2 linked regions of the Homo sapiens genome follow. The protein of the gene in region 1 interacts with the protein of each later gene in a biochemical or structural test. Each region holds a gene or a part of one and is shown in the gene's direction. Other genes may lie near its edges.

Region 1 (15,810 bases):
GGTGGATCACGAGGTCAGGAGATCGAGACCATCCTGGCTAACACGGTGAAACCCCATCTCTACTAAAAATACAAAAAATTAGCCAGACGTGGTGGCGGGCGCCTGTAGTCCCAGCTACTCGGGAGGCTGAGGCAAGAGAATGGCATGAAAGGCCGGGCGCGGTGGCTCACGCCTGTAGTCCCAGCACTTTGGGAGGCCGAGGCGGGCGGATCACGAGGTCAGGAGATCGAGACCATCCCGGCTAAAACGGTGAAACCCCGTCTCTACTAAAAACACAAAAAATTAGCCGGGCGTGGTGGTGGGCGCCTGTAGTCCCAGCTACTTGGGAGGCTGAGGCAGGAGAATGGCGTGAACTCGGGAGGCGGAGCTTGCAGTGAGCCGAGATCCCGCCACTGCACTCCAGCCTGGGCAACAGAGCGAGACTCCGTCTCAAAAAAAAAAAAAAAGAGAATGGCATGAACCTGGGAGGCGGAGCTCGCAGTGAGCTGATATCGCGCCACTGCACTCCAGCCTGGGCGACAAAGCGAGACTCCGTCTCAAAAACAAAAACAAAAAATCTAGCAATATTATTGGTATAATGCAAACTCTCTTTATGTGCAAATAATGTGATTATGCTCTTAGAAAAGCTGAATGATCCCAGCAAAATGTTCTTAGAATTAATAGAATTTGGTAAGGGGATGGGATTCAAAATAGCGTACAAAAAGTCGTAGTGTTTCTCTATTCTAGTATTAACCAGTTAGAAATTTAAATGGAAAAAAAACTACTTAAAATAACCACACAATGTATGAAATAGCTAAGAATACAGATTTAAGAAGAAAGACTTGAGGGCCAGGCATGGTGGCTCATGCCTGTAATCCCAGCACTTTGGGGAGGCTGAGGCGGGTGGATTGCCTGAGGTCAGGAGTTTGAGACCAGCCTGGCCAACATAATGAAACCCTGTCTCTACTAAAATACAAAAAATTAGCTGGGCGTGGTGGTGGGCGCCTGTAATCTCAGCTACTCAGGGGGCTGAGGCAGGAGAATCGCTTGAACCTGGGAGGCGGAGGTTGCAGTGAGCCAAGATCGCGCCATTGCACTCCAGCCTGGGCAACAAGAGCAAAACTCCGTCTCAAAAAAAAAAAAAACAGGGAGGGAAGAAGAAAGGCTTGAGATCTTTTAAGAACTGCAAATACTCCAAGGATATGAAATAAGACCTTAGCCGGGCACGGTGGCTCACGCCTATAATCCCAGCACTTTGGGAGGCGGAGGCAGGTGAATCACTAGGTCAGGAGTTCAAGACCAGCCTGGCCAAGATGGTGAAACCCTGTCTCTACTAAAAATACAAAAAATTAGCCGGGTGGGGTGGTGGGTGCCTATAATCTCAGCTACTTGGGAGGCTGAAGCAGAGAATTGCTTGAACCTTGGAGGTGGAGGTTGCAGTGAGCTGAGATCATGCCACTGCATTTCAGCCTGAGCAACAGAGCAAGACTCCATCTCAAAAAAAAAAAAAAAAAAAAAAAGAAATAGACCTTAATGAATGGAGGAATGTTCTGTGTTCTTAAATAGGCAATTTAATAGTGAAACAAAACAAAAACCAGTTCTCTCCAAATTAATATAGACAGCACATTTCTAGTCAAAAATATCAGTCGGGGAGTAGGACTGAATGAAATGAAATTATTTTAAAGTTTTACATTGTAAAATTCAGTCTAACAATAGCTGAGAGATTGATTTCAGAAATACTAAAACTTACTACAAAGCTGCTGCAATTAAAAAACAAAAAAAGTGATAATTAGCACAGTAATGAAACAGTGGAACCAGAATAGAGAGTCTAGCAAAAGATCTCAGTATATTTCAGACTTAGTAATTTGTTAAAGTTAGTACAGATATTTTATCTGAAACCTTAGGGCCAGAAGCCTCAGAATTAATTTTTCAGCTTCAGAAAACCAATATGCAAGGCTGGGGGCAGTGGCTCACACCTGCAATCCCAGCACTTTGGGAGGCTTAGGTGGGATTGCTTGAGCCCAGGAGTTCCTGACCATAGTGAGATCTCGTCTCTACAAAAAATAAAAAATTAGCCAAGCATGGTGGTGAGTGCCTATAGTCCCAGCTACTCAAGAGGCTAGCATGGGAAGATCACTTGAGCCCAGGAGTTTGAGGCTGCAGTGAGCCGTGATCACACAATGGCAGTGCAGCCTGGGCAACAGAGTGAGACTCCTATCTCTAAAATAAAATAAAAAGAAAGACAATATGGTATTAGCACTAACCTCTCCAACAGGATCTGGGGAAAGCGCCTTGTAGTTGAGTCACAAATAATTCTTCACATGACTTACATATAAATGAAAAATGTAATGTCAGTTCACATTTAGCCACCAAATGAATTTTGGGGGAAGACTTGTTTTCTAGAGCCTTTTGGATTTCCAGTTTATAGATAAGGGATGGTAGACCTATATGCCAATTTGGTAGGGAAATAAATGGTGTGTTTTGTACATTTCTGGAAAAGAAAATTTTGGACCCTCTACCTCATAACATATACAGATTGAGTTCATCCGTCATCTGAAAATCCGAAATGCTCCGAAATCCAAAACCTTTTTCTTTAAGAAAAAAGAATTGAGTCTTGCCATGTTGTGCAGGATGGAGTGCAGTGGCTGGTCGCAAGTGAAATCATTGCACACTATAGCCTTGAACTCCTGAACTTGAGCAATCCTCCTGCATCAGCCTCATGAGAGTAGCTGAGACTACAGGCACGAGACACTGTGCCCAGTAAAATCTGACTTTTTCAGCACAGACATGACAAAGTAAATGCTCATTGAAGCATTTCAGATTTTGGGTTTTTGGAGTAGGGATGCTCAACTGGTAAGTATAATGCAAATCAAAATCTGAAAGACTTCTGGTCATAAGCACTTTGAATAAGGGATACTCAATCTGTATCAAATTCTAGAAAATTTGGCTGGGCGTGGTGGCTCACGCCTGTAATCACAGCACTTTGGGAAGCCGAGATGGGTGGAGGTCCTGAGCTCAGGAGCTCAAGACCAGTCTGGGCAACATAGGAAAACCCTGTATCTACTAAAAATACAAAAAAGTAGCTGGGTGTGGTGGTGCGTGCCCGTAGTCCTAGCTACTCAGGAGGCTGAGGCATGAGAATTGCCTAAACCTGGGAGGCGGAGGTTGCAGTGAACTGAGAGCCCCTGCACTCCAGCCTGGGCGACAGAGCGAGACTGTCTTAAAAAAAAAAAAAAAAAATTTAAATGTGAAAAATGAAAACCAAGATCAGAAAATAGTTAGAAAATTATAAACTGTGGGCGGGTGTTCCAGTGTGCTTACCAGAGCACTCACTCGCCGGTGGGCAGGGAAATGCCGTGGGAGGCAGCAGCACAGATTCTTCTGTCTTTTATCCACAGCAAAAATACCCAACAGTGACAACATCCAGTGCTGATGGGCAGGCAGGAGGACCAGGTCATTGTTTTAACACAGGTGGAAGAAGCATGACTTGCAAATGTTCTGCAGTTAATTGGGCACTATCACTTTGAAACCAAACCTGGTTAGAATGAAAAGCACCAGCATGGAAGTGTACAAGTTTATTCTAGTGTTGCTGGGTTATTGTGGAGAAGATCTGGAAGCAACATAAATGTGCCTCACTTGGGAGAATTTATGGTGTGGTTATCTGGGCATCTAGAACCAGGAGGATAAACTGTTGGCAAGTGAGAGTCACTGGGGGAACGGTCTATAGTAGTATCCTAATTGTGTATCTTTAGTTTATTGTGAGCATGTATGATGTCTGTTAATATTTTCCTCCAGTAGTAGAGAAAACGTGCTAAGGAAAAAAAAAAATGAAGATGGAGAGAGTAGAAACAGCAAGTGAGAAGGCTTTCTGAAACATGTAAATGGAGTGGGAAGGACTCAATGGGCTCTCCCACCCCACCAAAAATATCCTTCTTTTACCTTATGGTTTTTATAATGATCAAAGTGAGATTTGCCTGTACTCCCACCATGAGATGGCCCAGCATATTGATGGAAATCCTTCCAGACAAAATGGCTCTGGCATGCTCTGCAGACAGTACTATATTATACACCTTTCTTATGCCAGTGCAGAGATGAGCCCGATTTGAAGGGCTGCATGATGTTCTTTTGAATGTACGATTTATTTAACCTCTTCTGCACTGAGGAACGTTTAGGTGTTTTCCCATTTTTCACCACTACAATCAGTGTGCACGCATGTTTCCAGTTCTTAAATTTAGGATACGTTCTGGGAAGGGATTAATGAGACAGATTTTTACTTTTCATACATTGTGTCAAACTGCTTTCCAAAAAATACGGAAACAGTTGATCCTCCCACCAGCAGAGAAGACTCTCTTCACCCTTGCATGACTGGGAATAATTCTTCATTCTTGGAATTCTGTGGGTTAAAAAAGACGTTTCATTAAATATCTGTTCCTGTTTTTATATCTTCCCCGTTGGCCCCAAAGTGCTCCTTGCCTATTAGCCTAGTTGGCACCTTGTTACAGGTTGCACCCACCTTTGGCTCTTAGTTTCTTAATTGTTCACTGCTTATAGCTTTTTTGTAAGCAAATCAGATTTCTGTAATACAGCCGTAAAGTTAGAGATATATAGATCTGTATTTTTATTTACCTACAGTAAGTGTGGTGTGGAAGGAGAGGGAATTTGAACAAAGATCAGATAGGTTGTGGTTCCATGCTTGTGGAGTGGCCCTCCGTTGGTGGGGCTGGAAGTGCGTGGGTGCAGGGGCGGGGTGGGGTCCCTCTAAGCTGGCAGGGTCGGGGCAGCAACTTGTAGGGCACTCAGAGCAGCCTCTCCAGCTCCTTCTGCCCTGCCCGCAGCTCATGATGGAGCAGTCCAAGAAGTCCTCCCTCATGGTGGCCCGCAGTATTCTCAACAACAAGCTCATCAGCAAGAAGCTGGAGCGCTACCTGAAGGTGAGGCACTGGTCCGGGCCTGCCCTGTCCCCAGCTTAGTCCCCGCCTGTGCTCCCTCCCTTCAGTGTCCGCGCCCCTCCCCACAGGGCGAGAACCCTTTCACCGACAGCCCCGAGGAGGAGAAGGAGCAGGAGGAGGCTGAGGGCGGTGCCCTGGACGAGGGGGCGCAGGGCGAAGCGGCAGGGATCTCGGAGGGCGCAGAGGGCGTGCCGGCGCAGCCTCCCGTGCCCCCAGAGCCAGCCCCCGGGGCCGTGTCGCCGCCACCGCCGCCGCCCCCAGAGGAGGAGGAGGAGGGCGCCGTGCCCTTGCTGGGAGGGGCGCTGCAACGCCAGATCCGCGGCATCCCGGGCCTCGACGTGGAGGACGACGAGGAGGGCGGCGGGGGCGCCCCGTGACCCGAGCTCGGGGCGGGCGGAGCCCGCGTGGCCGAAGCTGGAAACCAAACCTAATAAAGTTTTCCCATCCCACCTCCGGGTTTCTCTGTTACTGTGCCGCGCGGGCGGGGCGGGGTGGGCAGAGGGGCGGGGTGCGCATGCGCGCGGGCCGGGCCGTCGGGCACCGCGGTGGGACCACAACTCCCATTAGGCCACGGAGCTGGATCGTAGCAGCCCGAAAGGCCAGCTGGGACGGCGAGGGCGGGCCCTCGTGAAGACCAGCCAATGGGGGCGCGCGGAAGTAGTGACGTGTGCGCCTGGTCTTCCAGTAGTCGATGGCGGAGGTGCGCTGAACGCATGCGTGCTGTGGTCGCCTAGTAAACGGGGCTGCTGGTGGGCCGCGTCGAAGACATGGACCAGGGCTACGGAGGTTTGTGTTGGCTGCTGGGTGCGGAGCGGGGAGGGAAGGCTCTGTGCGGGCGACGCAGCCGCTGCGCAGACTGCCGCCGGCCGGGCCTTCGTCCCGAGCGTGGTTGCCCCAGCTGGGCCCTCCGGAGAGGCGGCCAGGGCGCGCGCGCGCCGCTCATTGGGCTTTGGCGCCGTCGCTCCCGGGGCTCTGCGTGCGGATTGGCCGCCAGGCCCCGAGGAGGCGGGCGGGACTCGGGGTTGGGGCAGACGCCGCGGTGGGCTTCGTGGGGGCGTCTTAGACAGTGTGGGCCGTTTTTGCCCCTCACCTTCGGCGGAGTCCTTCCGGCCCCCAGCGACCCCGGGGTTTGCACTCCCGGCTTCCTCTTCCGAAGACGCCACAAAATGGCGGCGCTAGGGGGGCGGAGCTACAGCGTGGGGTTGTGAGGTCGGACCCGGGGAGCTGGGTCTGGGGCCGCGGGCGGACCGCGGGGGCCGCCTCTCTCCCGACCTGCCCTAGGCCCGCGGGGCCGTGTAGGGTCTCCGCTGGGCTCACGTGGCCCAGGGCGCCTGTCCCGGAAGCCGTCGGGCTGCGCGGGGTCGGGCCTTTAGTCCCCGGTGCAGCGCGGTGGGGCCGAGTGCTGCCGGCGCGAGAGTCAGCCTCGCCGGGCTCCAGCTCTGTACCCGGCGCGTGCTGGCTTGGGACAGGATGGTGAGGGGCAGATGCTGAGTGTTCGTATAAAGCTGGAAACCTGATGTGCCCTGGGGCTGGTGACATTGGCAGTTCTCCTTTAGGCAGTCTGTTGTGGTGGCCTGGAGGGGCCGAGGGGCTGTGCAGGAGGGAACGTGTCCTTTCCCCACTAGGATTTAGCGCTTGGCCTGCAGTAGGGCCGATCTTCTCGAGCTGCCTGCTCCCTGCTTCTGGAATCAGAGCCTTTTGGGAGCAAAGTTTGCCCACAGGGGATAGTTGGGACATGCTGGGTGGAGCTCGACTGGTTGTAGAGAAGCTAGTGGTCTGATCCTGGCTGCAGGAGCTCGAGAAGTTGTCGATCTTGAGAAGTGGCAGGGCAAAAGTATCCCAGCACCAGAAATTGCAGAGAGAGGTTTCGGTCCTGAGGCGGCAGCGTGCGCGGTGTGCTTTGGTGTCTTCCGGGTCCTAGCGAAGGCTCAGCCTGGCTCTCCTGGTCTTCCGCAGCCTGGGTAGATTTCACCATTCTTTCCCTTCTTTCCCATCAGATCTTTTCTGCAGGTATTGTATTCCTTCTTTTCATTCTTAGTTTGGAGAGGTTTTTTTTACCCCCTCTTCCTACCTGCCGAAAACCTTTCAGACACACTGGAGATAGTTAAGCTTCCCTGATTTCTTGTGTTTCCGGGAGCGTTTTAAGGTTAATAGTGCGTGCCACTTACACTAGAGCTTCACAGAGAAGCAGTCTCTCGAGGTTGGTTACTTGCTGTTGGAATCTGCAGTCTGCCTTTCTGCTGCACGGATGCGAATTTAGAAGGTTTTGCGGTATGACGGAGGGGAAGGCGTAGCATAGCAGAGGGCAAAACTCAGCAGTATGACTGGGTCAAGTCTCGTAACCCATGAGCCTAGCTCCCTTGTCTCTGAATGGCATTCCGGACAACAGGGTTTGCTGGGTGCTTGCGGTGTATCGGCACGCACTAGGCACTTAGCCGGGGGCGGGGGAGTTGTTCTGGTGAGGGAGACATGGATATGTTCCTGCCTCATCAAAGTGAAGTCATTTAACAGGCATGGTGGCCACCCGCGCGCAGCTCAGTGCTGGGCCCCAGGGACACAGAAATAAAGAGAACACAGTTCCCATTCTCCTTCCTGGAGGGACCAGACAGATGCCATAGTGGGCGGGGGGTGTGGAGGGGTGAAGAGTGCTGTCTGATGCCTTAGGGCCAGGCGAAGGCTCTGGGACTTAAAGGTCCAGGGGATCCGTGGAGGCCTTAAAAGTGGCAGGAAGGGCCTGGCGCGGTGACTCACGCCTGTAATCCCAGCACTTTGGGAGGCCGAGGCTGGCGGATCACGAGGTCAGGAGATCGAGACCATCCTGGCTAACATGGTGAAACCCCGTCTCTACTAAAAACACAAAAAATTAGGCGGGCGTGGTGGCAGGCGCCTGTAGTCCCAGCTACTCGGGAGGCTGAGGCAGGAGAATGGCGTGAACCCAGGAGGCGGAGCTTGCAGTGAGCCGAGATCGCGGCACTGCGCTCTAACCTGGGCAACAGAGCAAGACCCCGCCTCAAAAAAACAAAAAGTGGCAGGAAGTGCAGCTTAGAAAGATGCAATTTATGTCACTAAATTCCCATGCTTGTTTTCAGTTACGAAGTACTTGTGATGGCACTCTGAACTGGTTTCCTAGCTGTGTGGTGGGTGGGGGAACGTGTCCTCATGCTGAGTGGATTGTCTTGTGTTAGCCTCAGTTGTGGATGAAATCTTGGAGAGGTGAGGTCCTTGGCCAAGGTCCCTCTGCAGGGCGGAGCTGACTTCCAAGCCCACTTCCCACCCTTCTTTTTCTGCTTTGATCTCAGCCAGGTGGAATGCGATGACGCCATTAGCCAGTTGTGTGATGGCTTTTTTTTGGTGGGGTGGGGGGGAGTCTTCCTTCTTCTAAGGCTGGCACTGAACTGTAAGGAGATCCCTTTAGGAGTACCCCCAAAAGGACCCGTTCTCTGGTGTGACAAATAGAATTTTAACTCACGGGGTCTTCTTGCAGGCTACGGGGCGTGGAGTGCTGGACCTGCCAACACCCAGGGTAAGTGGGCTCTGCTTTGCGGGTGAGGCGTGGGCTTCCCCTAACTCAAGGCCCTAGCATGGCAGAGCTGAACTTGGGTCAAGGGAGAGTAGTAGCCCAGGGGTCAGCAAACTTTGTGTAAAAGATCAGATAGTGAATATCTTTGTGGCTTTATGGGCTCCACAGTCTCTGTAGCAGGAAAGCAGTCATAAATGTGTGAAAGAGTGGATGGGACAATGCCAGTAGTTACTTACAGACAATACAATTTGAAGTTCCTAATTTTTGCGTGTTAGTGAATACTCTATTTTGGCAAAATATTTTTGTTATTCTGAGTAAATAGCTGAGGGTATATCCGAGGTGTTTTTTCTCTATAATTACCAGACTTTTTAGTACAGCTTTAGATTGAGTAGTGGAGTTTCATACGCCCACCCACCTCCACTCAGGTGTACTGAGTGTACACTACACCTGTAGTGAGTGTACTAAAAATCTCATTAGTATGATTTTTTTTTCTTTTGATACAGAGTCTTGCTCTGTTGCCCAGGCTGGAGTGCAGTGGTGTGATCTCGGCTTACTGCAGCCGCAGCCTCCCGAGTAGCTGGGATTACAGGCACCCACCACTGCGCCCAGCTAATTTTTGTATTTTTAGTAGAGACAGGGTTTTACCATGTTGGCCAAGCTGGTCTCGAACTCCTGACCTCATAATCAATCCCATAATCAAAGTGCTGGGATTACAGGCGTGAGCCACCACGCCTGGCCTCATTAGTAAGATCTTTCATTAGCTGGGCGAGGCAGCACACGCCTGCAATCCCAGCACTTTGGGAGGCTGAGGCAAGAGGCTCACTTGAGCCTGGGAGTTCGAGACCCGAGCTCAAGTGATCCTTTTATCCAACTAATGAAAAATTAGTGGGGCGTGGCAGTGCGTGCCTGTAGTCCCGGCCACTCAGAAGGCTGAGATAGGAAGATTGCTTGAGCCCAGGAGGTAAGGCTGCAGTGAGCTGTGATTATGCCACTGTACTCCAGCCTGGGTGACAGAGCACGACCCTGTCTCAAAAAAAAAAAGGCCAGGCACGGTGGCTCACGCCTGTAATCCCAGCATTTTGGGAGGCCGAGGCGGGCAGATCACGAGGTCAGGAGATCGAGACCATCCTGGCTAACACAGTGAAACCCCGTCTCTACTAAAAATACAAAAAAAATTAGCCGGGCGCGGTGGCGGGCGCCTGTAGTCCCAGCTACTCCGGAGGCTGAGACAGGAGAATGGCGTGAACCCAGGAGGTGGAGCTTGCAGTGAGCCGAGATCGCGCCACTGCACTTCAGCCCATGCAACAGAGCGAGACTCCATCTCAAAAAAAAAAAACAAAAAAAAAATCTTGCATTGGTGTGATGCATTTGTTACAATTAATCAGGCAATGTTGATGTGATATTATTCACTATAGCTCATAGTTTTTGTTAATTTGTATAGTTCTCTGAGTTTTGATCCAGTGTGTAAGTGATGTATCTCATGTCAAAATTTGTCATTGAATACACTTTAGAAACTTTACCCCAACCATTTAAAAACGTAAAATTCATCCTTAGCTGAGGGCAGAGCCTGAGAGCACAGGGCTACGGGCAGTGTGCTGGTACTTATTTATGGGCACCGAAATTCGAAAATCCTAAGGGCTGTGCCAAGGCGGGAAGTGGGCTGGGTGTGGCTGGACTTTTTGCAGATCCCTGCTTTAGAGTCAGGGCCATGATGCTAGGCTTGTGTGGCGAACCAGTGCATGCTCTCTGCTGGCGAGGCTTTCTCCTTTCTGCCAGCCCGTGTTTTAGGGCACGAGGGCTTCCTTTGTTTTCTGAGCCTGAGATCTGACTCAGGCAACATGGGGAGTGGGGCTGCTTTTGAGCCACCACCCGGTGTTTCAGGAGGAGGCCTTCCAAGTCGCTCGTGGCACATAACGTCCTCTTTTTCGCTTGAGTTGAGGACGTGACTTTGCACCAATGCTTCGCTGTGCAGTTGGCAGCGCCTGCACTCTGGCTTCTGATGGGAACTGACCCTTTACGAGGTCTCTGCCTGGGGCCTGGCCTGGCCAACCTCTTGGCCAGCAGCCCACAGTGGACGAGCTTCCTGGGGAGCGTGCGGCGTCCCTTCCCTTGCCCTGACGGACGGTTGGCCTTGCCCGGGATAGAGGGCTTGCTTGTGCTCAGCCTCTCAGCCTAGTGCTCTGTAGGAGTTGAGTGAGCTAAAAACACCCAAGGGTGTCTCCCTGAGCGCTGCGGAGGGAAGCCCTGGCCCTGGGGCTGTGGAGGGTGGAGCAAGGTGACAGCTGGGGTGTCAGTGCCTTCGTTCTGCAAACAGGGCTCTTGTGTGTTTCTGTTTCCCCTAAGGTGCATATGGAACTGGTGTGGCCAGCTGGCAAGGTAAGCCCTTCTGTGGGGGGGGTCTGTGGGCGGGCAAGTGGGCCTCTGATCTGAAGGCCAGGCGGGTCAGCCCGTCAGGGAGGTCTGGCGTGGACTTTCTGGCTCTGTTCCTGAGGACGCAGTCAGCCACGGCTGCTGTTGTGTATATGGGGGGACTGCAGAGGGCTGTGGTGGGCGGCCTCAGGGGAGCATGATGGGGAGGACTGCGACCGTGCTTTGGGAGCAGCGGTCCTTTGTGGGGCCTGTCAGCAGCCGGAACTGCTGTTCCCAGGCTCTCAGTCACCCGGCTTTGAATGGGGAACAGGTCCTAGCGTCTGGCATGGAAAACCCGCCGCTCGGCACTGAGGCTGCCCCTTTCTCTGGCCACCTCCTGCTGCCTCTTGGCAGGTCACAGTGCAGTGTGAAGTGATGCCAGCAGCACTGGGTCCCACACCCGTTTTCCTTCTCCGTGGCAGCGGGTGCCCCTCCCCGGTTGTGTCCACCATGGACAGGCCTCGTGGCTGCTGAAGTCTGACTTGGCTCCTCCCCCTGTGACAGGTTATGAAAACTACAATTACTATGGCGCCCAGAACACCAGTGTCACCACAGGCGCAACCTACAGCTACGGCCCAGCCTCGTGGGAGGCCGCCAAGGCCAATGATGGCGGCCTGGCGGCCGGGGCCCCTGCCATGCACATGGCCTCTTACGGCCCAGAGCCATGCACCGACAATTCCGACTCCCTCATTGCCAAGATCAACCAGCGTTTGGACATGATGTCCAAGGAAGGAGGCAGGGGCGGGAGCGGCGGCGGTGGGGAGGGCATACAGGACCGGGAGAGGTGATTATGGACCCAAGCCCTCCCCCGGGACCCCACACATCCCCACCTTTGTGCGCATGGGAGTGGGCACCCACTCTTGAGGGAGGGCCTGTCCCCGCCTCCCTCTTGGGTGTGGCATTGACGAGTTGGGCTCGTGGGGGGTCAGTGATGTTACAGTAGGACTTCCTTGCTTTTCTTCATGGCGGGGCTTGGGCGTGGTTGTTGGCTAAGCTCCCCGAGACTCCTTTTTTCTACATCATGCTATTCCTGTGGCCAGGGGCTCTGTCCCCTGCTCAGCAGTGTTCCAGGGAGGGTGTTGGTCAGTTTTGGTCATCCCAGCACTTAGGTGGGATGCAGGGTGGTTTGGTTTGCTGTTTTGAATGTAGGGGCGTCGAGGTTATACTGAGGGAGTGTGGCAGTGGGTGATCGGGGTGACCGCCCCTGATGGGCTGTGCTTCTGTTGCAGCTCCTTCCGCTTCCAGCCGTTCGAGTCCTATGACTCCAGGCCCTGCCTGCCGGAGCACAACCCCTACCGCCCCAGCTACAGCTACGACTATGAGTTCGACCTGGGGTCCGACCGCAATGGCAGCTTTGGGGGGCAGTACAGTGAATGCCGAGACCCAGCCCGGGAGCGGGGCTCCCTTGATGGCTTCATGCGGGGCCGGGGCCAGGGCCGCTTCCAGGACCGGAGCAACCCTGGCACCTTCATGCGCAGCGACCCCTTCGTGCCCCCCGCTGCGTCCTCTGAGCCCCTGTCCACGCCCTGGAACGAGCTGAACTACGTGGGTGGACGGGGCCTGGGAGGGCCCTCCCCCAGCCGGCCACCTCCGTCCCTCTTCTCCCAGTCCATGGCTCCCGACTACGGCGTGATGGGCATGCAGGGGGCGGGCGGCTATGACAGCACCATGCCCTACGGATGTGGCCGCTCGCAGCCTCGGATGCGGGATCGGGATCGGGTAAGCCCTCGCAAGGTTCCTTCCGGCCGCCTTCGCTTCTCTTTTTAGCAGCTTTATTGAGGTAAAATTTCCCCATCTCAACATTCACTTAAATGTTTTTAAGTGCGCAGTTCGACTTTTAGTTAATTTACAGGATTGTGCAACCATCCCCACCATCACAGTCTAATCTTAGCATTTATGTCAACCAGAAGAGAAACTTCTTCTCATTAGTCACCCCTGTCTCTTCCCCGCCCCCACCAGCCCCCGACAACCACCACTGGTCTCTGGATTTGTGTGTTCTAGACATTTTGCACAAATGGAGTCGCGAAACGTGTGGCCTTTTGTTCCTGGCTTCTTTTCACTCAGCATGATTTTCTTTTTAGTTTCAAATTATGTTGTCTCTTTGCTTTTTGAAAAGACCTTTTGTGCCTGTGTTGTCTGATCCTACAACCTCCTTGTTCTTTTCTGTGGGGCATCTTCATGGCCCTCGTAAGTAGCTCATGGGGTGTGCTTGTTGTCTGTAGCCCAAGAGGAGAGGGTTTGACCGCTTCGGACCAGATGGCACGGGCAGGAAACGGAAGCAGTTCCAACTTTACGAGGAGCCAGACACCAAACTGGCCCGGGTTGACAGTGAAGGAGATTTCTCCGAAAATGGTATGTCCTGGGGGCCAGGTGGGCCAGACAGATGTAGGATGGGTCGGCTGCCTGCTGGGGGCTCTGCTTGCCCCATCTGTGTCGTGGACACTCGCAGGTGGCATGTTTCAACCCCACTGTGGTCAGGGCAGACTCACCCTGGATGGCGAGCTTGGGAGGGCGGAAACCGGATGGGACCGTTCTCCGGGGACTGACTTTTCCTTTCTTTGTGTCTGGCAGATGACGCAGCTGGTGACTTCCGCTCAGGAGATGAAGAATTCAAGGGTGTAAGTCCACCAGGCAGCCCTTTTGCCTCTAGTGTGGGATTTCTTCTTTCTTTAATCACCCTTCCTCACAAAGGGGCAGGAGCAGCTGCCATGGTAGATTTGACTACCTCTGAGTGGATTCAGGACCCTGACTTTTAGCTAGATTTCTAAAAGTTTTCCACCTTAGCCGGCACGGTGGCTCACACCTGTAATCCTAGCACTTAGGGAGGCTCAGGTGGGTGGATCACTTGAGGTCGAGAGTTGGAGACCAGCCTGGCCAACATGGTGAAACCCCGTCTCGATTAAAAATACAAAAATTAGCCAGGAGTGGTGGCACTTGCCTGTAGTAGCAGCTACTTGGGAGGCTGAGGGAGGAGGATCACTTGAACCTGGGAGGTGGAGGTTGCAGTGAGCTGACGTTGCATCACTGCACCCCAGCCTGGGCGACAGAGGGAGACTCCGTCTCAAAAAAAAAAAAAAAGTTTTCAACTTACAACAAACATTCCTTTTCTGAAAAAAGCTCCCAGTTCCTCTCCCTGGTCTCTAGGCCAGTAAGTGCAGGGACTGTGGGCTGAAGCCTCCAAGCACAGGCTGGAGGCTCATTTGCCGCCAGCTCCGTGCCGGGTGCCGCTGACTGGTGTCCTCATCCTTCCATCCTCACAACAAGGCACAGGCAGGCAGCACGTGGGGCCAGTTCATAGCCGGGACCACCCCAAGCTCTTGGGGAGGTGCCTCAGCCACCCCAGTGTAGATTCTGATCCAAGTTGGAGGTGTAGGGCCTGGAGGTCCAGAGTGGGAAGGAGGGCCTTCCCCAAGTCCTTAGAGTCACACAGGCAGGGAACAGGCAGGAGATGGTGGCTTTTCAGGTTTTCAGAGTCTCACTTGATCCCTATTTTGCTGGTCTTGAGATTAGGAATCTCTGTAAACCTGCTGATTGTTAATTTAGCCGTATGTTCACTGCCTAAGGAGTCAGCTCTGTTCAGATTCTCAGTTGAATCGTTTTTATCTATACGTGATTGTTATTAAGACATCGGGTAAATATAGGCCTGGCGCGGTGGCTCACACCTGTAATCCCAGCACTTTGGGAGGCCAAGGCGGGTGGATCACGAGGTCACAAGATTGAGACCATCCTGGCCAATATGGTGAAACCCCGTCTCTACTGAAAATACAAAAATTAGCTGGATGTGGCGGCATGCGCCTATAGTCCCAGCTACTCGGGAGGCTGAGGCAGAGGATTTGCTTCAACCCAGGAAGCAGAGGTTGCAGTGAGCTGAGATTGCATCATTGCACTCCAGCCTGGGAGACAGGGCGAGACTCCGTCTCAAAAAAAAAAAAAAAAAAAAAAAAGACATTGGGTAAATATAAACAAAAGCTCGGGAAACGTGGTGGAACCCATTTTCTATGAAGAATGCCAGAACTGGCATCCCCCAAGTGAGACTCTATCTCCCTACGGTTGGTGAACAGGCTCCATTCATAGAATTGTACGGGTGGGTCTTTGTCATGGGGCAGGCAGTTCTGCAGCTTAGGAGGAACCGAGAGAGGGTGGGTGAATGGCTTTTTAGCAAGGTGATTGTCACAGAATCTCTGAAGGCAACTAGGAGTAATAACAGGACACACAGGCCCTGTCCTGAGCCCCGGAGGCTGGTCCTAACACACTGTGGCTCATTCTTGGTGGCATAGCAACCTAGGTCTTGGGTGAGACTGCCCACCAGGCAGTGGCCAGGGACTGGGCTGGTTGTGGAGAGTCTGGACACACCAGCTCACTGCCGGACTTTGTGTATACTCTTTTCCAGGAGGATGAACTCTGCGACTCTGGGAGGCAAAGAGGTAGGCATCACCGTGTCCCTTGCAGCTTTCCTGTGTCTTCCCAGCTGCCCCGCACTTACTGCCCAGCTTCTGAGCAAGCCAGGGGCCTGGATGGAGGGGCCCGTGGCTGTGGGGGAAGAGGGGCTGCAGCCACCAGATGGGCCTTGACCGTGGCGATCAGCCAACACTTTGCTTCAAAGTGTCTGGGGCAGCATTTACTGGAAACGGGTCTGTCTGCCTGACCCGATGTGGGCTGCAGTGGGGATGGGGGGCAGCCTTGGGTGTCCACCACAGTCGAAGTTTGTAGGGAAGGAGAAACATGAGAGAAGAGGCCCCCAGCCCATCTTCTGTGCCCTCCTCGGCCAGTGCATTTCCCTGAAGTGTTTTCTCTGGGGCTTCCTTTTGTCCAGTTCCTTCAGTCGCCTGCCCTGGGCTGTGCTGTGGGCCTCTGTGGTGGGGATACTGGCAGCTGCACTGCACATTGCTTCGTGCCTGCGAGTGTGTGACAGCAGACACCTGCGGGGTCGGGAGCACCCAGGCCCACTGGGTC
Region 2 (15,105 bases), on another chromosome or scaffold:
CGTGATTGATTTGAACAAGCCAGGGATATGCGACAAGGACTACATGCACCCGTGGTCAGGGAGAAACAGAATATGGAAGGGAGTTTCACAATGTTCTTCTATACAATGTCTGGAATCTATGAATAACATCGGCTTCTAAATCATAAGTTGATTTGTAACTACTGGGTTTAGGCCAACCAGGCCCAGGCCTGGTTTTGTGCCTTTGATTTTGCTTCCTTGTTGTTTTTACTGAATAGAAAACAATATAAAACAAGAGGACAGGGTCTTTCTCTCTTCTCAATATCAGCACTGGATTGTAGAACTTGTTGCTGATTTTGGCCTGGCATTCAAGTTAACTCTTCCCCTTGGTATCTGTACATACCTTTGATGTCAGTGTTTAGTACACGTGGCTTGGTCACTTCATGGCTAAAAACGTGCTTGTGGAAGACAAGTCTGGCTTGGTGAGTCTGTGTGGTCAGCAGTCTCTGATCCGTGCAGGGTATTAATGTGTCAGGGCTGAGTGTTCTGAGATTTATCTAGAGGCTGGGAAGGGCTCCTGAACCAGTTGTTTCCGTCTTGTCGGTCTGTCAGGGTTGGAAAGTCCAAGCCATAGGACCCAGTTTCCTTTCTTAGCTTACGTTATCTACCAGAGCACCGTGGGCTGTTACTTGCCTTGAGTTGGAAGCGGTTCGCATTTATACCGGTAAATGTATTCATCCTTTTAATTTATGTAAAGTTTTTTAGTATGCAATTCTCGATCTTTTAAGAGTTGACAACAAATTTTGGTTTTCTGCTGTTATGTGAGAACATTAGGCCACAGCAACATGTCATTGTGTAAGGAAAAATAAAAGTGCTACCATATGCAAAAAAAAAAAAAAAAGAAAAGAAAAGAAACATTAATGTCTAAGAGGTCATTGAGATGATTTCCATGAGAGACTTTTTGATGTTCTTCACCAGTTAGGATTATTATTGATAATCCTTTTCAGATTATGAATAAACAGTTTGCCCTCAAGTATTTATTCATGCTACTATTTACATTGTAAAATGTGCTTCTTACAGGAATATAAATAGTTTCTGGAAAGGACACTGACAACTTCAAAGCAAAATGAAGCTCTTTTGGTTGCTTTTCACCATTGGGTTCTGCTGGGCTCAGTATTCCTCAAATACACAACAAGGACGAACATCTATTGTTCATCTGTTTGAATGGCGATGGGTTGATATTGCTCTTGAATGTGAGCGATATTTAGCTCCCAAGGGATTTGGAGGGGTTCAGGTGGGTATGATTCATAGTATCAATTGCAGAATTCACTGTGCTTGTAGTAAACACTATTCTGATCTTCTACGTGAAGCTTGGGCAACATTTTACTTCACAGGTAAGTATTCTAAGTAAAAGAATTTTCTGAGGAAAAAACAATGTAGTATTCTTTGCAACTGTATATTTTGTTTCTGATATAATCTTTCTTCAACAAGAGCCCTCCGATGTGCTGTTAATATTTTCAAGAGATAGCTGCCTATACCAAGATTCAAGAATCTTTTGTATTATTGATTAGATTCTAGAACATTCAATGATATACAGTAAGACAGAATTTGGTACTTATGAAGACTGTTTAATTTGTAGGTCTCTCCACCAAATGAAAATGTTGCCATTCACAACCCTTTCAGACCTTGGTGGGAAAGATACCAACCAGTTAGCTATAAATTATGCACAAGATCTGGAAATGAAGATGAATTTAGAAACATGGTGACTAGATGCAACAATGTTGGGGTAAGTGAATTCTAGTTTCCTTTAAAAATAACAGATAGGAAAATGATTTCTGTCTCTTCTTTCTTGCTCCTTTTGAGCAGAAAGTTTTCCATATCAGTTTTAATTTTACTTCATACTTTAAAACTCAAAAGTAACTGTCACCTTATGTTCAATTTTTGAAAATATTTGTATATGTGCTCTCTACTAAAGAGATAAGTTAAAGTTTATAGCAGAGTTTACTTCTGAAGCAAAACATCAAATTTTAACCGCTATAACTATCCATATTTCCTGGAAGGATTTTCTGGTGAGGAATTTTAATTCCAGTTACAATATTTGCTCTCATTTTTAGATGACTTGTGTCTCCATTCCTAATTCTTGGGTTTTTTTTGTGGTGAATAGGTAGCTTATCTATTTAATGAGGAGCAGAATTTGAGATGAATAGCTACCTTATTTGTCTTCCAAGCTTAGTAGAGAGTACAGGCTTTCTCCTGGTGACCCACTGAAATTTCCCAAATAGTAACCTTTTCAGTCTCATCTGAGTTGTGTCTCCCCAAAATGGGCTTTTTGCCTTTCCTCCTATTTATGGTAGTTTCCGGTTCTCTCAGTTTATCATTCCTATATATATTTGGCCAAGTGTCTGGAATGAATGTAGGTGTTTAGTTCACATTACTTTCCTTTCACAGTTGATTTTTGATCTTGTAGGAAAATAGTTATAAGGTATGAAATATTTTGGAATTTTATTAGCACACTATAAATTTAATCAATAATTCTTTAAATTTCTGCCTCTCTGTAAGTCACACTGAATTAGAAACTTTGTTTTCTAGGTTCGTATTTATGTGGATGCTGTAATTAATCATATGTGTGGTAATGCTGTGAGTGCAGGAACAAGCAGTACCTGTGGAAGTTACTTCAACCCTGGAAGTAGGGACTTTCCAGCAGTCCCATATTCTGGATGGGATTTTAATGATGGTAAATGTAAAACTGGAAGTGGAGATATCGAGAACTATAATGATGCTACTCAGGTAATTTTTTTACGAGAGTGATCTGAATAAGGAGTGATATATGCCTTTTGTTGTAGACATGTAGCTAATTGAACTTCGTTGTAAATATGAATTTAGATCTCTTAGGGACAGAGGTTAACAAGTTTGACTACTTTAAGAAACTCAAATCCATATTTGAAAACCTTTAAATATTGATTTAAGATTTTTAATCAATACACATTTGTCCACTTTTAAAAAGCTCCCAACCAATTGAAAAACTCATCGACTTTATTTCCTAAGTTCTCTATTTTCTATTAGAAAATATTTCCAAGATACATCTATAGTAGAATGTGAGCATCCCCAGTGTCCAATGCAAGGAAGTCACCATAGAATATCTCTTGAGGAATCATGGAATAAATGAATAATCAAATGGATTCTCAGGCGAAAAGTGAGGTTTTATTAATCAATCATAACATTCTTACCTCAACAGGTCAGAGATTGTCGTCTGTCTGGTCTTCTCGATCTTGCACTGGGGAAGGATTATGTGCGTTCTAAGATTGCCGAATATATGAACCATCTCATTGACATTGGTGTTGCAGGGTTCAGAATTGATGCTTCCAAGCACATGTGGCCTGGAGACATAAAGGCAATTTTGGACAAACTGCATAATCTAAACAGTAACTGGTTCCCGGAAGGTAGTAAACCTTTCATTTACCAGGAGGTACGTCAATACATATAGGCATATAAAATATCATCCTATTCATTAGAAAATTCACGGCAGATTCAATTAAAAATGCAATTTCTGTAGGATAAAGACTGAGTCATTTCCTTAAAACAGTGTTCTTTAACCTCCTCTTCTTCACATACAGCATATCTAATTCTTTATCACAACAGGTTTTATGGAGGTACACAGAATGTAGGATACTGATAATAGTTATGTCTTTATTTTCTTTGGAAAATGAAATGAGTTAATATTTATCAAAAAAAGTCAGTCAGATAGTAAATATCGTATTCCTGTGAGCTGTTATTATTATCATTGATGTACAAGACTAAAAATTAGGTAAGTATTCTCACAGGACAACAGGTAACTTTGACATTATGTTTCTTTCAATATTGTAGTGTATACTTTATCAAAAAAAGAATATAAGAATATTACCGATGAAGATAATAAGAATAAGAAAACGATTTTGAGCGTTTCATATAACAAATAGGACCAGGCGTGGTGGCTCTTGCATGTAACTCAGCACTTTGGGAGGCTGAGGCAGGAGAATTCCTTGAGGCCTGGAGTTTGGGACCATCCTGGACGATATAGCAAGACCCTGTCTCTAAAGAACAAAGCACAACAAGTCTAAAATAACTCAGAAATAGCTGAAAGCTAATTTTTATATAATATAAACTTATCGGTTAAAATGCTTTAAAGTCCTTATGCAAAATGTTTTTTTTTCCTAAATTTCTTCTAGGTAATTGATCTGGGTGGTGAGCCAATTAAAAGCAGTGACTACTTTGGTAATGGCCGGGTGACAGAATTCAAGTATGGTGCAAAACTCGGCACAGTTATTCGCAAGTGGAATGGAGAGAAGATGTCTTACTTAAAGTAAATAAATACAACTTTTCCCCTGAACTATTTCATAGATCTGTTAGTCATACTACCCCAGTGCGAGTTATCTTCTGGAACATTCTTATTCAGACAACTATTAAGGAGTCAGTTGTTAATGATAAGTATTCTAGTGCCCTAAACTCTAATCAATCATCTTTTGTATTTAGAGTGTCTGTCACAAGACAGTATGCCTAGGAACGCTAAACTTACCCTAGGAGTTTCTGTCTGCGTACAAGATGAATATACTGGATTTGACTGATGTTTGCATATAATCTTTTAAAGCCAGGTTATTATTAAAATGATCCTATCATTTATAAAGTATGTACAAAGTGTCCATGCTATTGTATTTACTTATACGAATTGGAAATGTAAAATGATTTATATTATAACAATACAATATTAAAGCCTTATTTTAATCTAGTTTGACATTCTGTATAATGTGATGTGGATATTGATCCTTCTGGAGTGCCTCTAAATGATAATGTGCTGAAACCTCTGAAAGGAAATTTTTTAATAACAAACATTTTATATTTGTAATATGAATATAAGTATTCCATACATGTATATACAAATATGGACTATATATATGTAGATTACACACGTGTGTTTGTTTATGAGGTGTGTGTGTATATATATGTGAGTGTGTGTTTGTGTGTGTGTGTGTATATATATATATCTTACAGAGTAACCATCTAATTAGAGAAAGAATTTAATCTTCAGATGCCATGCCTTACAGAAAGAGATGCACAGTAGAGTTACTCTCAAACTATTGTGAAATGATACATCAACGTATATCTTATGTTTCAAAAATAGGAACTGGGGAGAAGGTTGGGGTTTCATGCCTTCTGACAGAGCGCTTGTCTTTGTGGATAACCATGACAATCAACGAGGACATGGCGCTGGAGGAGCCTCTATACTTACCTTCTGGGATGCTAGGTAAAAAACCAAGTTCTCTATTTTTTTAACACCTCTTTTAATGATGGTATGAATATTGTGATATTCTATGATAATATAATTATGTAACTTTCAGGCTGTACAAAATGGCAGTTGGATTTATGCTTGCTCATCCTTATGGATTTACACGAGTAATGTCAAGCTACCGTTGGCCAAGATATTTTGAAAATGGAAAAGTAAGTTTTGGAGTTGTTCAAAATATCCTTTTCTCAAGAAAAAAGAGGCAATCTTCTCCTAATTTAATATGACAACTATTAAGTGTTTATTTATTCAACAAATATTTAATTATTGTAAACCTGATACAGGATTGTGATTTAGTAATGCAGGTTATATTAAAGGAATAAACTTTATATTCTCCATTGAAAAAGAATAGCAAGCTTTTTCAGAGATATGACAAACATCCCCCTAGCCCGCAGGGAAAATAAAAATAAAAATTAAAAAAACCACTTAAAAATAAGAGCTAGGCACAGGGATTAAAATATATACTTCGTACCTTCCTCAGGTTTAATTGGAAGAATATAGATGCCAACCCTTGTAGAGAACTTAAAACATCATCTGCCCGTAGTGAGAACAATATAAATGTCTTTTAAATACTGTTAAAAAGTTATATGGAATAGAAACAAATGATCCAGTTCAGCTGAGTTAAATAGGGAAAGTATACTATAAGAGGAAGGAAATTGTATGTACTAAAGGATAGAAATTTATAGAGAGTATTCCAAGAAAGGTAAGAATGAGAAAAATATTTGGGAGTATGGTAAAGACATCACTCTGCTGAGTAGTTTCAAAAAGGAACAGAGAAATAAGAGTGTAAAGATATTTGGAAAGCTAGTAGAAGGTTTTCTTTTAAACTAAAGGGTTGAGAAACAGCATCAGAGACTTCAGAACTAAAGCAGAAATTCCTCCTTCCTATGAGTCACACAGATATCTAGCTAGCTTTTTTTAGATTCCTTTCAGTTTGAGAAGTCCGCTACTATGTATAACAACTGATTCTATTGTTAAACAGCTTTAATATTTAGAAGGTGTACTTTTATATTGAGACAACTTCTTATAATTTCTACTAATTGGTCTTATTTCTGTTGTTAGGAGTCAGAGAGTTCTTTTATTTTTTCTATTACTATAACATTCCCACTTTGACAGGACTGCTGCATGCTATAAACTCTTAAGTTTTGTTCACTTTTCACCATATGACGTGATTTTAAGGTGAACACTGATAAACTTCCTAGGGTTACTCTGTGTTTTTTAATGAAGATTTCTTAAAGTGCCAATCAGAAAAGCATAATACTAAAAATATGGTCAATTTATAAAAAAAAAATGTTCAGATGTAGTATTTTGTACATTTATCTAAAAAGAAGCATGACGGCCTCCAATATTTATTTAGCATATGTCATGTTCAAGGCATTTTCACATATATTACTTAATTTTTATAGCAAAAGAACTCATTATTCTCATTTTACAAATGAGGAAACTGAGACACAGAGAAATTATTTATATTGATTAAATTTTCTCAGCTACTAGTAATAGAGCCTATGTTTTAATCCTGGTGTTTCTAGTACTAATGCCCTTCCCATTTCAATGCCATTGCATGGCTTACAGTGATGTTAAGAAGCCCTTGCAGGCCAGGTGCAGTGGCTCACACCTATAATCCCAGCACTGTGTGCGGCCAGCTGAGAAGGTCAGCTGACCTGAGGAGTTCAAGACCTATCTGGGCAAGCTAGCAAGACCTTGCCTCTACTGAAAATTAAAAAAAAAAAAAAATTAGCTGGGTGCGGTGGTGCACACCAACAGTCTTAGCTACTTGGGAGGCTGAGATGGGAGGTTCGCTTGAGCCTCGGAGATCAAGGCTGCAGTGAGCTACGATCATGCCACTGTACTCCAGCCTGGGTGACAGAGCAAAGAAGTCTTTGCAGTGCCTTGGAATGAAAAGGAGAGGATAACAATTTGCTACCTTTGTTTGAAATATGGCAAAAGAGAACCAGAGGATAGAGAGATGATGAAGACCCAGTAAAGGGCTATAAAAATCAATGAAGGCATTGGATTCTAGATAAAGTCACTGAATGCAGAGACACAAGTAACAGGATAGGTTGGGTTTGGTTTAAAGGAGAAGGAAGAGATAAATATATATATGCTAAAATTTGGCTTTTCCTCCTGTAATTAAGGATGTTAATGATTGGGTTGGGCCACCAAATGATAATGGAGTAACTAAAGAAGTTACTATTAATCCAGACACTACTTGTGGCAATGACTGGGTCTGTGAACATCGATGGCGCCAAATAAGGTGAGAATATGTATTTAGACATGTCCTCTAATAGTAAATTTCCGTAGCACTTTATTTAAAACAGTTGAAGTTTAAGAATATCAACGTTTTATATGGTATTGTGTTTTTAGGAACATGGTTAATTTCCGCAATGTAGTGGATGGCCAGCCTTTTACAAACTGGTATGATAATGGGAGCAACCAAGTGGCTTTTGGGAGAGGAAACAGAGGATTCATTGTTTTCAACAATGATGACTGGTAAGTAAATATCAATTAAAAATAATATTTTGTACCAGTATGTTCTTGGTTTATTCTTTTTTTTTTCTGTTCATTGACATTTATCATATCTGAAAAATCATGTAGTCAGTGGAGCGAGAAGACAATAGAGATCAAAATTGGGTAGAAGCAAAAGGATGATGGCTGTTACTCCTTCGTTCTCCTGTTTTCATAAGTGCTTTCTGTTGTAAGCAGAATCCTTTCTGTGCACCCTTGCAATATCTTATGCATATATAGAATGCACATTCATATGCTTACCTACACATGCCACAAAATACACAAAGTAATTAATAGAAGGATTGTGAAATCATTAAAAGAACGTTTCTTATAGTCCTGCTCTTTTAATCATGGAAAAATGCTGCCTCAGTACTAAAATATCTTTATTTCTCTTTTTCTCAATGACAGCTCTACCTAGTTTTTTGGTATACTTTCTTCACTTCTCTGTCTCCTTGTGACAAATAACATTTTTAAAGCATATGGATAAATAATATGTATCTTGTGGTTAATGATTTGCTTCAGGAGACTTGAGTTTTAGTTCTGAAACTTCTCATTATTGGCCTTTCATCTGTGATTTTTGTATCCTTTGGCTGTAGTATAAATGATTCCCGAAACTGTAGCTGAGAAGACCTCCTTGCAAACAGTTGAATTGTCTCTGTCCAAGGCCAACTGACACTCATACTTAGCTCACTCTAGTATAAATTATACTTCACTTATGAAAAATAAATAAATACAAAAATATATAAGTCAAGTTGATCTCTTTCCTGCCAAAAAAATGCGTGTCTATTTCCTTAGTTTCCTTCTTTTGTGGATGAAAATACCAAAAAAATCTTTTGTGAAAAAGCTTTATATTTCAAACTATCACTTCCTCATACAAATGCTAGACTGTTTTTATGTACACCCTAAATTCTTTTTGACCTCATGTAGAATAAAAGAAGGTTAAAAAAATAATACCCTTTAAATTTTTAAAGTAATTGGCATTAAGTTCAGTTGAGAAAAAATTTGATTTTACCAAGGTAGCACTTTATCAAAATGTGACCGCTCCCGCCAATCTTCGGTGATATTCTTCAACTTTGATTTTTCGGTTATATTTTCACTACTGAAAAGGAAATTGGTAGGTTTTCTGTAAGGTTACTTTTGGTCCTAGAAAGCTGTTTACACCTACTAGGGAGGCATATGGGTTTTCTTCTTAATGAGACTTCACTGCTTAGGGTTCTAAAACATAAAGTTATGCTGTTTATTTGTGTTAGTCTGTATTCTTGATTTCATTGTTTTGAAGTTAAATCTGAAATTTTATTTTACAGGACATTTTCTTTAACTTTGCAAACTGGTCTTCCTGCTGGCACATACTGTGATGTCATTTCTGGAGATAAAATTAATGGCAACTGCACAGGCATTAAAATCTACGTTTCTGATGATGGCAAAGCTCATTTTTCTATTAGTAACTCTGCTGAAGATCCATTTATTGCAATTCATGCTGAATCTAAATTGTAAAATTTAAAATTAAATGCAAATCCGCAAAGCAATAGCTAAGTGTGTTTCTTTTCTTACATATACAGTAATAGTTACATATCATTAATTTTAAATAAAAGCTCTAATTAGTAAAAAGAGGTTTAAGACACTTGATAGTATGAAATACAATTCCAGGTTACACATAAGTTATTTATTTTGGCAAAAGGATGACTCAAAAATTTTAAAACTAGGCAACAATCTTTACTCATTAAGAGGTAAGACTTAGCTTTCCAAACAGTTTGTCTCCTGTCTACTCTTTTCTCTCCTTGGCATTCTACCAACAAGGCAAACCAAATATTTCATTATTCTTCTCTATTACATGAAAAATCTGTACAAGGGAAGGAAAGCCAAATTTTACCCTTACATAGGTTTCAAAAGAATCCTTTTTCCATAGGCAACATTTACATTTTTATGCCTTTTTATAATCTTTTACCACAAACACATTTAAGTGTTCCTACACACCTTGCATGTAAATTTATTTTTAGTTGTCTTATTTACATATTTTTATGGTCAATCTTAGCAATTTTTAACTTTAATGTAAACCTGGTAAGTTGTTTTAATTATGTACTAGATGCAGATAAAGTCTGACTTTTTCCATTCTAGTTAGGGCATGGTTAATTTCATATGTCCCCAGGCCTTACCAAGTTGTAAAGTAGGCAGCCTACAACCTTGAAATATTTAGCAAGCCTTTTATCTAATTTATGTGATTTAAACCTGCTATTTACATATTGATGATATTTGCATTTTCCAATTTGATCTTTAAAACAGTTTTTATTTCTTAGAGTTTAAAAACACATAAACTAAAAGGCATTACGGTTTTAACTTTCCTCTAAAATATTTGATTTAAGTGCTTATTTTTATTTAAGGCAATCAATTGGTCCTCGTTACAGACATCACACACAACACATATATTGCTACACAGACAAACAGAAGAAGATCCAGTAGCTCTAAGATTTCTTCTCGTCCCATTTCCTAATTGCATTACTGGCTTCCCAGTAGAGCCCTTTAAGAACAGGGATAGCAAACCACGAAGTTTCTAGGGCCTAATCAACTTGTATAGCTGTAAGACAAAAACAGATTTTGAGCAGGATTGATCAGCCTCTAGATTCTGGGATTCCATGAGGAAAACAGAGGTTTCTCCCAAAATGGAATCCATCATGCATTTTCTGTTTTTCCCAAAACGTTTCAGGCCACCAGAAGTTATCTTGTGTGCATTAAGAGTGGAAAGACAGAGTGGAGAACAGTAATTCAGTCAATGGAAAAGTTCTTTTCAAGAAAAACACGATCCAAGAAGACAAAAACATGCAGGTCTTTTAAATATACCTATAACTTGAATATCCACTTTTAATCAAGCTCAGCACCCTTTCAGAAAATCCTTTGACATCTTCTGTTTCCTGACTTTAGCTAAATCAAGCAGGTAATATTTCTGGCTTTTGAATTTTACCAAAGGTAACATCACAGGGGAAACTAAAAACTCTCCGTTAGGTTATAAGTTCACCGTTAGTATACAAGATATTTTATAAGTGGTGGTAAGCAGCTTTTACCAGATCTAGAACCTTTAAAGTCAGTTGAGAGAAAGGAAGATTTCAGAAAGGCAGTTAGAGTTTTTCATGGCGGAGCACGAGATGATTAAACGTCACACAGTTGTTAACTGGAAAGTATTCATCACCCAGGCTGGGATTGAACCTGGGTCACCATTGTAAAAAGGCAACGGCTGAAAAGTGGTACTACCACATGGTTACAGGTTATGCTTAAGGACATAAAACAAGTCGGAGACATGCAGCAAAGTTTGTTACTGACCAGTTTATGAGGGTGTCTTGAACAGTGAGCTCAAGGAGTCTCAGGCCTGGATTCCATTCCAAGGTACCCTCTGTCTGACTTTTTCTTCTATTTTCTCTCCTTTTCCTGAGCCTCCTCCTAGTACGTCTTATGAAAGACTGAGGTGGCTACTCTTAGAAGGTTTTCTAAGGTGCCTTCTAGTCCTATAGCCTGTTTCTGTAGCTTCCTTCAAATATCAGGAGCTGCTTGAGTAAACCTGTCTTTCAAGATGAGCTGTCCCTCAATTGAATTACGAGATAGGGAAGCATGTTTTGCCAAAGTCTCTCTCAGCCTTTATAAAAAGGCTGAGGGATTTTCATCTGGGTTTTGATCTATCATGGATAGCTTAGAGTAGTTAACAGGTTTGGCTCTGGTCCCCTGTAAGACTTCTACCGTATACATCTGAAAGTGTTTCTATTTTTCAATCATCTATGGGCTTAGTAGAGTTCCAATTAGAGTTTTCAAGGGATACTGCCTCTTTTCCTACTGGGAATGGGGATTCTGCCTGTTTCTCACCCTCTTTCCCTTTTTGACTGGCTATAGGAAACATGCTGCTCATCTCTGATTTTTTCTGCTACCTGTAGGGCTGCCTGTCTCTCAACAGCAGTTAGGGTTTCAGAGTAACATAACATCCTTCTAGGAGAGTTTAAATACTTGGGTTATATCCTGGAAGGCCTCTATACATGAGAGAAGTTGGCACTTGCCCAGAGCGAACTTCAGGCTCTGAAGTCTAAAGAATAACTCAAGGGGAATGCAGGCTTGAAGATGGGGTGTTACCCATGCATAAAAAGAGGGGAGTAGAAGGTGTCCCTTAGTCTCCTTTCAACTTTTGAAGTGACCCAGGTTGAAGAGAAAGATTACAGGGGTGTCCCTCTTCTCTTTCCTCCCATCTCCTTTGGGTCCTGGCAACCATCATAGGTGCAGCCCATGGATGCAAGCATGAATTGCACCCATGTATCTGGAGGTGCTAGTTGGCAGGGGTAGTCATGCTTACCAGCACAATGCCTCATCTCACTGCCCTTCTGGGTTCCTAGGCCTCCCAGGAGATTGTACAGTAGATAAAGTTGGGTGAGACACTTTAACAGAGGGAGTGTTTTAACCCTATTCCTGCTTCCTCTAGCTATGGCCCTGGAAAAGCAGTGCATTCCCAGAAAATTTTACCCATTGCCTTTTAAACACAAAATCCCCTTTCTGATTAAATGCCAATGTTGTTGGAAGCAGAACAGGTGCCTCAAAAGAACATATGGATTTAATGGCTGTCCTCCTTCTGATGGGAACAGCACTGAGGCTAGAATTTGTCTCTCAAGGGTGGCTTCCTCCCAACTGTTGAATGCGGAGTTTTTTTCCCTACAAATGGGGCATAGAGTCTGCTTGCTGACAGAGGAACACAAAAGTGGAAGAAATCTGGGTATTAGAGGTTTTTGGCAAAGGGCCAACAAGACTCTATGCAGAAAAAAATCCTATCTCATGAGGTGGTGCTGTAGGTTTTGAAAATTTAGGTAAAATCTGTGACTCTAAATATTGATTAAAAATCTTAAATCAATATTTGAAAGTTCTTAAATATGGATTTGAGTTTCTTAAAGTAGTCAAACTTGTTAACTTCTGTCCCTAAGAGATCTAAATTCCTATTTTAAATGAAATTCAATTAGCTACATGTCTACAAGAAAAGGCATATATTACTCTTTTATTCAGATCACTCTCGTAAAAAAATTACCTGAGTAGCATCATTGTAGTTCTCGATATCTCCACTTCCAGTTTTACATTTACCATCATTGAAATCCCATCCAGAATATGGGACTGCTGGAAAGTCCCTACTTCCAGGGTTGAAGTAACTTCCACAGGTACTGCTTGTTCCTGCACTCACAGCGTTACCACACATATGATTAATTACAGCATCCACATAAATACGAACCTAGAAAACAAAGTTTCTACTTCAGTGTGACTTACAGAGAGGTAGAAATTTAAAGCATTATTGATGCAAGTTTATAGTATGTTAATAAAACTCCAAAATATTTCATGATATCTTATAATTATTTTCCTACAAGATCTAATTCCTATCTCTAGTGTTCTTACTTTCCCTACCTCACTATGTTGTAAAAGTTAAGAAGCTATGATTCATAACAGCATTTTTACAGAAGAGCTGAGTCTTTTTGGGCAGTGCCTCTAAGGTAAAGGTGTAATCACAGCCTCAAGAAAGTATCCGTAAAAAGGAATCAAATAGAACAAAAGGAAGTTTTCCTACTTATATACAGCTGAAACTCATTTCATTAAAGGAACAGAATAATTTTATGTGGGAAATATTTTCACCTTTGAGTGATGTTCTGACAGATGAAAGATTTGGGGGTACAAAAATAGAAGACTGTATTATGGCAAGGATACAAATTTTCTAAATTGGGATAAATACCCTACTTCCAAAAAACCAAAAGCCCAATAAAACTCAATGCCAGACAAGTATAAAATAATTATAAAAAAGATTACAATAAAAAAAGTGAAACTGCATTGATATCCATGTAAGAATTTTTAAAGGCAGTTTTTATAATCATAAATAAAATATATTATAAAATTGCCTTAAAAAGAAATTATGTAATCATCTAGTTATGTTCTGCTGCACATCTTAAACCAGGTAAACAAAAAATGCAAACACTATTCCATTGGAAAGAAAACAATTTATTATATCTGAGGAAAGTCATTACAATACATGTAATATATTTCCAATTTACTGATTTAAAGGCGTATGGATTTAATTTTTAAATACACTTTCAAAGCTGTTATGCACAGTTCCATAGTCCAGGTGGTCAATTTCTTCTTCTCAAAGTTGCAAAGCACTTGAAGGACATGGGAATCCAAAGAAACCTAAAAACATCATAAAAGCCCATTAAAAATAGTAAGTATAACACAGGTCATTAGTTTAAAAATAACTGAGAGCTGAACCATTTATATTTAGAAAATTAGTGAATCATGTCAGTTTAACAAAATTTATGTAAATGAACTGCTTATAAAGAAACTGATTTATAACATTTACAAAATCATTTCAACTATGCCTATAGAAAAATAATTACATTTTCAATATCTATAGGTTTTGTACTTTTAAGGTGATAATAACCAAATTTTCAATTGTTTTCATAGAACTAAGAATAGTATCAGATTTTTCAACAAAGAAACACAGAGGCGCCAACCCTTTATTTTCCTAGTTATTAATATCAGGTTGGGTGCCTATGTTGATACTAGGTACCTAACCATTTTACTCTAACAAACGAGTATCCAAACTGCTCAGTCCTTAGAATTACTAAGGAAACCTTTTCAAATCTGATTCTGATACTCCATTCCCAGAGATTCAGTTGTATTAGTTCTAGGATAGAGTATAGGAATCTTAATTCATAAAAACTCTTCCTTGGTGGTTCTCAAACTTGGTTGCACATTAAAATCAGCTTGAGAGGTTCATTCCAACATCTGTGCTACACTCTCAACACATCAAATGAAAATTCTGACCAAGGGAACCAGGCATCAACACATTTCTTAAGGACTTTTTTAGGAGGGAGAGGTTCTTACTCTGTCAACCAAGCTAGAATGCAGTGGAGTGATCATGGCTCACTGCAACCTCAACCTCGGGGGCTCAAGTGATCCCCTTGCTTTAGTCTCCCAAGTAGCTGAGACCAGAGGTGCAAGCTATTTATTACTAGCTATTTGTCCAAAGGTAAATAAATGAGTATATCAAAGAGATAACCACACTCTCATATTTATTGCAATATTCACAATAGCAAAGATATGAAATCAACCTCTGTCCATCAATGGATGAATGAATAAAAACAACATGGTATATATATACACAGTAGAATACTTTTTGTCCATAAAAAAGAATGAGATTTTATCATTTACAGCAAGATGGATGGAACTGGAAGTCATTGTGTTGGGTGAAATAAGCCAGGCACAGAAAAACAAGTATCACATATCCTTATTCTTACATGAAAACTAAAAATATTGATCTCATGGAGGTA

What was found.
Region 2: the proteins of AKAP8 (region 1) and AMY1A form a complex in vitro, tested with the Homo sapiens proteins (one study listed by BioGRID).

What each region holds. Positions count from the first base shown.
Region 1 is NC_000019.10:15,369,617-15,385,426, reverse strand, and holds the start of AKAP8 (A-kinase anchor protein 8), read left to right. Parts: upstream 1-5,639; 5' UTR 5,640-5,695; coding exon 5,696-5,714; intron 5,715-8,412; coding exon 8,413-8,451; intron 8,452-10,791; coding exon 10,792-10,824; intron 10,825-11,361; coding exon 11,362-11,641; intron 11,642-12,086; coding exon 12,087-12,576; intron 12,577-13,079; coding exon 13,080-13,209; intron 13,210-13,428; coding exon 13,429-13,475; intron 13,476-15,247; coding exon 15,248-15,281; intron 15,282-15,810. Other genes in the region: AKAP8L (A-kinase anchor protein 8-like), read left to right, coding at 4,815-4,910, 4,997-5,305. UniProt on the Homo sapiens protein: Anchoring protein that mediates the subcellular compartmentation of cAMP-dependent protein kinase (PKA type II).
Region 2 is NC_000001.11:103,655,247-103,670,351, forward strand, and holds AMY1A (alpha-amylase 1A precursor), read left to right. Parts: upstream 1-513; 5' UTR 514-682; intron 683-1,038; 5' UTR 1,039-1,084; coding exon 1,085-1,252; intron 1,253-1,597; coding exon 1,598-1,744; intron 1,745-2,547; coding exon 2,548-2,745; intron 2,746-3,193; coding exon 3,194-3,424; intron 3,425-4,163; coding exon 4,164-4,297; intron 4,298-5,113; coding exon 5,114-5,236; intron 5,237-5,330; coding exon 5,331-5,430; intron 5,431-7,410; coding exon 7,411-7,529; intron 7,530-7,639; coding exon 7,640-7,765; intron 7,766-9,084; coding exon 9,085-9,274; 3' UTR 9,275-9,308; downstream 9,309-15,105. UniProt on the Homo sapiens protein: Calcium-binding enzyme that initiates starch digestion in the oral cavity.